2 separate regions of the Homo sapiens genome follow, and region 2 is linked to region 1. The links come from fine-mapping of genetic effects on gene expression. Tissue or cell type: whole blood. Region 1 holds a variant in brackets; the other region holds the start of a gene. All regions are shown on one strand. Distances are from middle to middle.

Evidence for each region. PIP is the estimated chance that this variant, and not a neighbour inherited with it, causes the effect.
Region 2: ZC3HAV1 starts here. The variant in region 1 is fine-mapped to the expression of ZC3HAV1 in whole blood (TOPMed, PIP above 0.99).

Annotation. Positions count from the first base shown.
Region 1 is chr7:139,058,790-139,063,992 of GRCh38, reverse strand. It overlaps ZC3HAV1 (zinc finger CCCH-type containing, antiviral 1), which reads left to right. Exons shown (of 13, transcript NM_020119.4): 9 at 2,855-2,957. Among named protein-coding and RNA genes, the nearest start is that of MIR10399, 17 kb to the right of the region's middle. The variant A/T (reference allele first, on the strand shown) is at 2,644.
Region 2 is chr7:139,107,788-139,112,910 of GRCh38, reverse strand. ZC3HAV1 (zinc finger CCCH-type containing, antiviral 1) reads left to right here and starts at 3,191. Exons shown (of 13, transcript NM_020119.4): 1 at 3,191-3,887. The coding sequence starts at 3,580. RefSeq lists enhancers at 3,083-3,242, 3,035-3,538, 3,483-3,582, 4,163-4,292.

The DNA.
Region 1 (5,203 bases):
GGGGAGAAAAGCTATAGGCATAAAGTAAGGTGCTTGTTAAGCAGCATGGTGTGACCGAAGAATACTAGACCAAAACCAGTACCTATAGTACTAAAAGTAGGACCAGTCTGTACCAGTGCAGTGGTGACTAAATAAATTAGGGTATTAAATTTCAGTGGCGTATCTGGCACTTGTTAAAGATTTTGATTATGAAAACTAGATAGGAAGAGCAAAATTTGGTGTTGTTAAATGAAAAAGGCAGAACACTTTTTTTTTTTTTTTTTTTTTTTGAGACAGGGTCCCACGCCATCACTCAGGCTAGAGTGCGGTGATGCCATCACGGCTCACTGCAGCCTCAACCTCCCTGGCTCAAGCGATCCTGTCACCTCAGCCTCCCAACTAACTGGGAGTATAGGTTCATGCCACCATGCCCAGCTAATTTAAAAATTTTTTTGTACAGATGGGGATCTCACTTTGTTGCCCAGGCTGATTTTAAACTCCTGAGCTCAAGCGATCCTCCCACCTCAACCTCCCAAAATGCTTCGATTACAGGCATGAGCCATAGTGCTCAGCCAGAACCCCAAATTTATGTTTCTGAAATTTTGTTTATATTTAAAATAGGAAAGTTAAAAAAAACACAAAAATCAATGTGCATGATAATTGCAGCAATGCATGCATGTGGGCCGACTGGAAGATAATAAAGAAAAATTAAAATCTCTTCTATTGGGTGGTAGAATTAAAAATGACTTAAATTAAAAAAATTCTTAGGTGGTATTGTATTGTTTTTATGGTTTAAAAGGGTGGTGGAGAGATGAGAGCCAATAGACTTTGTTCCTGAATCTAGAGCAATTTGTCCAGCTACTTCTGTTTGTTTGGTTCATAGAAACCAGTTCAGAGCAATTTATGGGTTCCTAGTGTTCCAGATGGCTTTTTCTTTTCTTTTCTTTTTCTTTCTTTCTTTCTTTTTTTTTTTTTTTTTTTTTTTTGAGACAGAGTCTCGCTTTGTCACCAGGCTGGAGTGCAAAGGCGCAATCTCGGCTCACTGCAACCTCTGCCTCCCAGGTTCAAGCAATTATCTTGCCTCAGCCTCCCAAGTAGCTGGGACTACAGGTGTGTGCTACCACACCTGGTTAATTTTTTGTATTTTTAGTAGAGATGGGGTTTCACTGTGTTAGCCAGGATGGTCTCAAACTCCTGACCTCGTGATCCACCTGCCTCAGCCTCCCAAAGTGTTGGGATTACAGGCGTGAGCCACTGCACCCGTCCGCCTTTTTCTATTCCTGAACTAGACTGCAAGTGTATTCTGTCATGCATTAAGCTAGTATCTGAGTGCCAGCTGTGTACTGGCTCCTGTTGTGGGTGCTGGGATACAGTGATGAAGTTGCTCTTCGAGCCTGTATTCAAAAGGGTGGTGAGAGACAATGGTCAAGTAAACAAGTCAGGCCATTTCAGAAAGTGGTAACAGTTACTGAGAAAATGAAACGGTGGAGAAAATGAAACAGTGCAAGGAAGCAGCCAGAAAATGGAGGAGTCAGTGGGACAGCACTTACTTTTATAGACCAGCCTCTGCCTGTGGGAAGGAGGGCGCTCCAGGAGGAGGAAGAACTAAGGCTAAGGCTGGAAGGTACAGACCAGCTTGAAGTTTCACAGAACAGGTAGATGGTCTGTAAGAGATGAGAGCAGTGATAGAAACTTGGATATTTTATTAGGCGGAGGTCCCGGGAAGATTTTGAGCAGTGTTGTGGCATGATCTGATTTGCTTTGTGTGTGTGTGTGTGTGTGTGTGGTTTATGTTTGTTTCATATTTTAAGAGTGCAGTTGGATGAGTATTGACAAATGCGTGTAACCACCACCCTAAGCAGGATATAGAACATTTCCATCAATCCCGAAAGTTTCCTTATGTCTCTTTGCAATCAGTTTCCCCAGCAACACCACATACACCTCACTTTATCCCCATCACAGGCTATTGCTGATTTGCTTTCTGTCCCTGTTTTACCTGTTCTAGAATTTGATATTAATAAACGCTTGCAGTAGGCACATTGCATGTGGCTGACTTCTTTCACTCTGGAATAATGTTTTTTAGACTCAACCGCGTTGTTGCATGTATAGTAGTTGTTCCTCTTTTATCACTGAGGAATAAGTAATAAGTTATTGTAAGGCTATTCCATAGTTTATTTGTTTACCAGCTGATGGACACTTAGGTTATTTCTCCTTTTTGGTTATCATAATAACGCTGCTGTGAGCATTCACGTGCACATCTTTGTGTGGATACAGGTTTTCATTTCTCTTGGGTAAATACCCAGAAATGGGATTGCTAAATCACATAGGAGTGCATATTTAACTGTATAAGAAACCACCAAACTGTTTTCCAACGTGGTGGTTTCATTTTACACTCTCACTAGCAATGTATTATGACTTACTTTCTGAAGGGTTCACTCTGGTTACAGTTTGGACTGAGGTTTACGGCATGAATTGAAAATGATATTTCACACTTGATGTAGAAAAGAACCCTTCAAGACAGCTACCAGATTCCAACCCGTAATCACTGATGTCTGGTGTAGGGAAGCTTGAAAGGATGGTGTCTTGTTATTTGGCTGCCCCAGCTCTCCTCTTTTACCATCCAACTTGGATTTAAAGATGAGATTAATTCCTGAATATTCATTC[A/T]CTCCTTTGCTTTGAGCCTTCTACTAATGGCAGTGAAGGATACAAGTCTTTTACTGTGAGCAATTCTCATCCCAAAGGATTTTCTCTATTCGTATACATACAGGTCAGTCTTGAATATTTGCCGTGTAAATAGCCTCTGCAAAATAACAAGAAGTCATTTTCTAGGGCTGATCTTGATTCTCACTGCTTTTATTTTTTTTTCTGTCCAAAGGGATGATTCAGACAAACATAGCTTCCAAAACTCAAAAGGATGTCATCAGAAGACCAACATTTGTGCCTCAGTGGTATGTGCAGCAGATGAAGAGAGGGCCAGAGTAAGTGTTCTGAAGCAGCTGTTTGCTGACAGATGCTTGAGATGTTCATGCCCTGGGCTCATCAAGTCACTCGTGAATCTGGAGCCTGTTTTCCTGAAAAGTTCCTGTTTGCATTACTCTGCAGTTTCCATTTGCATTATCGATGAGTAAGATGCTTGTTAAGCAGCATGGTGTGACTGAAAGGATACTAGATCGGAAAATGAATTTTCTTTCTGAAAGGGAAGTCTGAGCGAGTCTCCTAAATACTCTGGGCTTTAGCTTCTCCAGCTGTGAAGAGCTGGATTGATGCAGTACACCTAAGGAATAATCATATATACTGGGTTTTTGTTTTGCTGTGGATTCTTTTTTTTTTTTTTTTTTTTAGAGGGGGTCTCACTTTGTTGCCCAGGCTGGTCTTGAACTCCTGAGCTCAAGTGATCCTCCTACCTCAGTCTCCCAAAGTGCTGGGATTACAGGCATGAGCCACCGTGCCTGGCTTTGCTGTGGATTCTTTTGGGTGTCTTTTGTTTTCCTACACGATTTATAGAGGATGAGGGGCGGAGAAAGAGATAGAAAAAAGGGATGAGCTAGCTGTTAGAGCAAGGGTTTTGGTGAGAGATAATATTGATTGAAGGGATTTTAAAGGAAATGTTGCTGTGGGGGATTCATTGTAACTCTCCTTGTGAACTGCTCAGTAAACTCTACATTGTTCATGAACATTTTTGGAGTTGGATATTTTTTTTCTGGGTGATGTGTGATTACATAAAACAGGCTTCAAGAGAAGTATAAAATCAAGGTGTTCTAACTAGGTTCTTTTGGTTGTAAGAATTCAAGCTATTTGATGAAAAAGGAAGTTACTAAAAAGATAAATAACTATGAAGTCATATGGAAAACAACTCGCAAGAATCTAAGAATGGAAACTGAGCTATATCAGGGCCTCAGGAAGGGGAGTTGCTTCCTATTCTGCTTTAGAACTGCAGCAGCCTAGAGTCAAAGATTCTTTCTTGGGACCAGGTTAACAGCCTGGATGCTGGATCTAGCTCACCTAGGTTCAAATTCCACCTTGCCACCCATTAGCTGTGTGGATTTGGACAAATGAATCACTCTGTATATCCTCATCTGTAAAATGGGCTTAATAATAATACCTTCCTCACGGTTGCTTGGGTAACACATTCCGAACACTGATCAGGTGTTCAGAAAATGTTAACTGCTCTGGTTATTATTATTTTTATTCCCCTGCTATTAATAGACTTAGTAACTATATATATAATTAAGTTGACTTAATTCTAATTCATAATTCCAACCTGCATATCTCTTCAGCCTTATCTTCTGCCACTAACTGCCTAATTTTCTCTGAATTTCTCAAGTTGATTTCCCAAGAATTAGAATCTGATTGGTGTAGCTATCTAAAGTCCCTTTCAGTAAATTTTTTTTTTTTTTTTGACAGAGTCTTACTCTGTCACCCAGGTTGGAGTGTAGTGGCACAATTTCGGCTCACTGCAACCTCTGCCTCCCTGGTTGAAGTGATTCTCCTGCCTCAGCCTCCTGAGTAGCTGGGACTACAGGCACATGGCACTATGCTCAGCTAATTTTTGTATTTTTAATAGAGACAGGGTTTCACCGTGAGGGCCAGGCTGGTCTCGAACTCTTGACCTCAGGTGATCCACCTGCCTCAGCCTCCCAAAGTGCTGGGATGACAGGCATGAGCCACTGCACTTGGCCCCTTCCTGTAGTTTAAATATTCAAATTAATAAAGTAAAAAGAATATTTCAGGGTTTAGGGAAGAGAGGAGTAAATCTCATGCCCTCACGGGAGCTTACATTCTGGTGGATGAGGCAATAACTATTTCAGTTCCTGACAAATGTTAGGTGGGGGAAAAAGGCAGAGTAGGAGGATGGGGAGGGGCTGTTCACATTCAGCCAATGAATGAGATCATCAGAGCTGCTTTCCATTCGTTACAATCGTTACAATCGTTCTGGCAGGATGTCTTCACAAAAGTGTGTTGGAACTGTCTTTCCTTAAAGCAACAAAACTGCATTTTTTTTTTTAAAGTTCCGGTAATTTTGATTTTTTAACAATTCAGATACTCCCAGTTAGTCTCAACTAGTGAGACCATGCTTTATGGCCCTTCCAGACAGCAGGAACTGTGGAAAGCATAGTAAACCTTGACGCCAAGCTGGATGGTTCTTTCTGTGCACATGTATTTCTAGGGGAAAAAATTGCTTTGTGGCATTTCCAGATAGCTCCTGTAGTCAGCCATTGTCGAT
Region 2 (5,123 bases), 49 kb before region 1:
GCTGAGGTGGTGGCCAAGGGTGAGAGGGATTGGAATGGATAGTGGTAGAGGGATATGATGAGGACCAGACCACCAGCTGTGGCCTTGAGACCAACTGCAGTGACAAGGACTATAGTTCATTCCACTAATTTCTCTCTGGTAAGCTTCCTTGTAGGAAGAGTGACCCTGAAAAGCCTGTTCCCTAAATACAAATGGATAAAGAAAGCCATGTAGTACAAAGGGTGGACTACAGCTGACACAGGGTGGCACTCAGGTCAAGCTTGCAGCCCAGCTTTGAGGAGCATGTTTAGCCAATATCCTCCAGCTTTAGCTCTTTCAAGATCTGCCCCAGCATTCGAGCTGAAGTCATCCACTTCTCTGGTGGCCCCCACCGGTGACTGAGCAAGGCAGTACAAGGGCCTAGCCTTTTCTGTCCAAAGCTGGACTCCTACTCCAGAGCTCCTCATTGGGCTGGCAGAGACTTTGTTAGGTCCGCACAAAAGTCTGATAGGCCCCATGGATCAATCATGCTTTTTCCTTTGACTTTTTCTGGCATTATGCCCCAGAAAAAGTGCAGAGAAAGTTCTGCACTCTTAACTCCATGTCAGGATCTCCTTCCTGGAGAACCCAATCTCTGATGGCACATATTTCAAAATTTTTCAAAATGTCTCCTTTTCCCTTCCCAGAACTCCTTAAATCACCTTTCTCTTTCACTTTCCCTTTCTTTTTTCCTTTCACTTTCCCTTCTTTTTTCCCCTTTTCCTTTTCCTTCCTTTTTTTCCTTTTCCTTCCTTTTCCCCTTTCCTTTCCCTTCTTTCCTTTCCCTTCCTTCCTTTCCTTTCTCTTCCTTTCCTTTCCCTTCCTTTCTTTCCTTTCCCTCCCTTTCCCTTTCCATTTCCCTTTCTCTTTCATTTTCACTTTCCCTTTCCCTTTCTCTGTCACTTTCCATTTCCGTTTCCCTTTCCCTTTCCCTCTCTTCCCTTTCCAAAAGGATCTTCCTCTGTTGCCTTTGCTGGAGTGCAGTGGCACAATTGTAGCTCACTGCAACCTTGAACTCCCGGGCTCAAGAAATCCTCCCGCCGCAGCCTCCCAAGTAGTTGGGACTACAGGCACATACCACTATGTCTGGCTAATTTTTATTTTTAGTGGAGATGAGGTCTCGCTATGTTGCCCAGGTGGATCTCACAGTATGTTGCCCAGGATGGTCATGATCCTCCCGCCTTGGCCTCCCAAAGTGTTGGGATTACAGGCACAAGCCACTGCACCTGGCCCTTAAATCATTTTTCATGGCTTCAAATTGGAGGAGATTCTATGTCTGTACTCCCAACCACTGTAGCCAAACTAGACTCTTCAGTCTCTCATCTTCTATATTCCCATTGTGGCATTTACCCATGAATTTGCTTATATTTCCATGCATTTTTTCATGTCTTCGCATACATGCTCCTTGAGTGCAGGGACTGTTTTTTAAACTTCTGCATGTCCTTACATTACTAACTAATGTAAATACCACATAGAAGATAGTCAATAAACATCTAGAACTTAGTTGATTTGATAATAAAAGGTCCCTGGGAACCTGTCAGACCACAAATAAGGCCAAGTGGATTAAAAGACAACTATAGAAGCAGCAACTAGAGGGAACAAGATGTCCCTCTTAGACATCCTAAGATGATCCTATGTGGCCCCCATGTTTGGCTGGTTTTCATAACAAAGTACTCTATTCCTGAAAGAGGGTTTATATACCATGAATGACAAAACTGAGGAGAATTCTCATTAATCATTTTGAAGAATTTCTAAGTTAGCAACCAGAATCTATTATTTTTTAAAAAGATGTATTTCTTATCTGATCAAATGACCCATCTATTTTATTTGAAGATGTTGGAAAAAAAAACCTTTTTTCTCTTCAACTTGTGTCCTGTCTTTGGGGGCCTAAAAATTAACTGGCACTAGACAGATAAATAGGAGAAAAGACAAAGTTTATTTACACATGCATGCAGGAGCTTCCAGTAACAGAAAACTCAAAAGTAAAGGTTTATATACCTCAACTTAACAAAAAGGAAAGTTTTAGGGCTTCAGTAGGAGAGTTTGGAAGTTTTGATTGGGTTGTTTTGTGTTTTTGAGACAAAGTCTCAGCGCTATCCCCCAGGCTGGAGTGCAGTGGCACAATCCCGGCTCGTTGCAGCCTCCTCCCGTGCTCAAGCAATCCTCCCACCTCAGGCTCCCGAGTAGCTGGGACTGCGGCTGCACACCACCATGCCCGGGTTGTTTTTATTATTATTATTATTATTATTATTATTATTATTATTATTATTATTGAAGAGAGCTCACTATGTTGCCCAGGCTAGTCTTGAACTCCTGGGTTCAAGCAATCCTCCCACTGCCTCGGCTTCCTAAAGCGCTGGGATTACGGGCTGAGCCACAGCACCCAGCCCATTGGGTTTTTTGGTGCTAATGGTAATGGGACAGTCTGTCTTCCTGGCAGCTGAATACTCCGAGAGGCTTTTAATGGCACCATGTTTTCGGGAGGTTTTGCTTTAGTCAGATAAGGGAAGTTTCATTAAGATTTCTTTCTACATCTTCTGTAGCTCAATGTTTTCACTTAAAAACAATCTTTATGTCAACTCTGGGGGTCAAAGTACGTCCCCACGGTGGAAAAGTTCTTGTCCCAATCTCTACGGGGAGGAACCGATCTGAAATCTTGGGATATGTCTTAGCATGTCCACCGTGATTGAGGTACAAGCAGTGGTTCAGGGCACCGAGTTAGCGATTCTAGGTAAGCAAGACCATGTCAAGAAGTGGTTTGTCCAAAAGTTCGTGAGAAGGCAGAAACGAGGGAGAGTGGCAATCGTTGTTCTTTAAGAGGGCACGGTGGTGGAGGAGAAACTTGCACATCGGGGCCTGGGGTACCACGATCTGGGGCCTGGGGACGCGATTTGGGGAAACTCGGTGGCATCTGGGCTCCGCTTGATGCCAGTGCGTGTTCGTGCAAGTTACTTCCTCAAGTTCAGGGTGAGGATAATAATATCTACCATGTGGAGTTGCTGGGAAGATTCACTACCAACAGAGGCAGAGCGCACGGCTCGCAGGAAGCGCTCGCTAGGGTCTGCTCTTTCCGGGAATGGGTGGGGTGCGCACTCCTCAACAGGGCTCTCAGGACTTGCGTCACACGCCTCAGTCGGCTGGCTTATAAAACACCGGCCAGAGCCCCAAGATCGCTTTTAGTTTCTCTTCTTTCTAAAGAAGGCTCGCGGAGCCCGGCTGGAGAACCTCACCCTCGCCGAGCCTAGAACCGAGAGGGGGCCACCCCAGGCGGTCACCAGCAGATTTGCCCGCGCGTTCTCTTTCTTTCCACCCAGTTGCCCTTGCGGCCGGCTGTAAACCTGCCACTAGGACCCGGTCGGTGAGATCTAGCCTCTTGACCTGAGAGCCGAGAGTGGATCGCTGGGCTGGGCTAACGGCGACGGAGAGCGCGCCCTCGCTGACTCCGGGCGCGCCCAGCAGTAGCACCGCCCGCGCCCGCCCCTGGACACTTGTAAGTTTCGATTTCCGATTTCCGCGGAACCGAGTCCCGCGCCGCGGCAGAGCCAGCACAGCCAGCGCGCCATGGCGGACCCGGAGGTGTGCTGCTTCATCACCAAAATCCTGTGCGCCCACGGGGGCCGCATGGCCCTGGACGCGCTGCTCCAGGAGATCGCGCTGTCTGAGCCGCAGCTCTGTGAGGTGCTGCAGGTGGCCGGGCCCGACCGCTTTGTGGTGTTGGAGACCGGCGGCGAGGCCGGGATCACCCGATCGGTGGTGGCCACCACTCGAGCCCGGGTCTGCCGTCGCAAGTACTGCCAGAGACCCTGCGATAACCTGCATCTCTGCAAACTCAACTTGCTGGGCCGGTGCAACTATTCGCAGTCCGAGCGGTGAGTGCACCCGGAGGGAGGGGCGCTGTCCGCAGCCGTGGTCGGGGTGGACTGTCCAGGCGGGCAATGTTCTGGGAGGGGCACGGCTTCGCCGGGACCCCGCACCTGACAGCCTCCGCCTCCAGCCACTCCCTTCTCTGCTCCCCTCTGGGAGCCTCTGCAGGGCCCGCGCTTCTACCTTTGCAGTTCCCTTCCTTCCGGCACCTCCAGACATTTTCTCGAGAATGGCTAAAATGCTAGTGCCTGGAGGAGACCAGGCTCAACCTCCACCCCTTTCCCCGCCCGCCCGCACGAATCAGAAGAATAAAGTGCTCTGGAGCCAGCCAGGGCCTAGAGAAGCGGTAGGCAGGTTTGGGAAGGAAGGAAAGAGCCTCCCGTCTTTGGTATCTTGAGTCTTTCCCTCCCTACTACCTCCTTCCCTAGACGTGGCGGAGCCAGTAACCCAGCCGCCCTGGGCCCCCGGTCCGTCTCCGCCGGAGCGAGCCGCAGGTCTCTCTGCTTGTCCCTCCCTTCCCGGTCACCCCCATGCCCCTCATCACCGCTTTTCTGATGCCTGGCGCGTAGCAGGGGTGGCCCTTTTCCAGGTTCCTGAAGTTGTAGCAGCCGCGGGCCTTCCCTCCGGGTGGTCTCTCTACGGTGGCGCGCGCAGTTGACCGCCTGCCTTGGGACAACTCTCTTAAATCCCTTTGAAGCAGTGTGGCTCACGTCTCGGGCCACTGCTTCTGTTGTTTCCGTTTGCCTTTTTTTTTTTTCGTCTAAATGCAGATGCGCTGCAAGGTTTGGGTTAAGACTCTTGAGTGATTTTCTTCCCAGTTTCTCCCTAAGAGAGCTTGCTCCCTCGAGGACAGCTGCACATCTAAAAAGATGGCTTCCAGGTCCACATTCGCTGCCCAGGCCTTTCCCTTGATCCCAAGCCCTTCCTCTCCCGCGTGTGTCCTGTCCATGGAGTCAAACTCATCTTTTCCCCCAGGCAGGGTTTTAATCCTCCTCACAATCTGTCATCACCAAGTCCTTTTTGTGAAGTCTCTTTCCCTTCTTGGCGGATTCTGCCTTCCCATCTAATTTCTGAATGAACTGAATGAACGCCTTGTTGAATTAATGAATGGCCAGTCTTTCCTCCCACCCTTTCTGTCACTATGTGCTCTGCTCAATTACTTTTCTCGATACAGTACTTTTTACACTTGGCCCATTCTTAAACACTTTGACTTGTGTCCCAGGGTTTAAAATGGTTGTCAG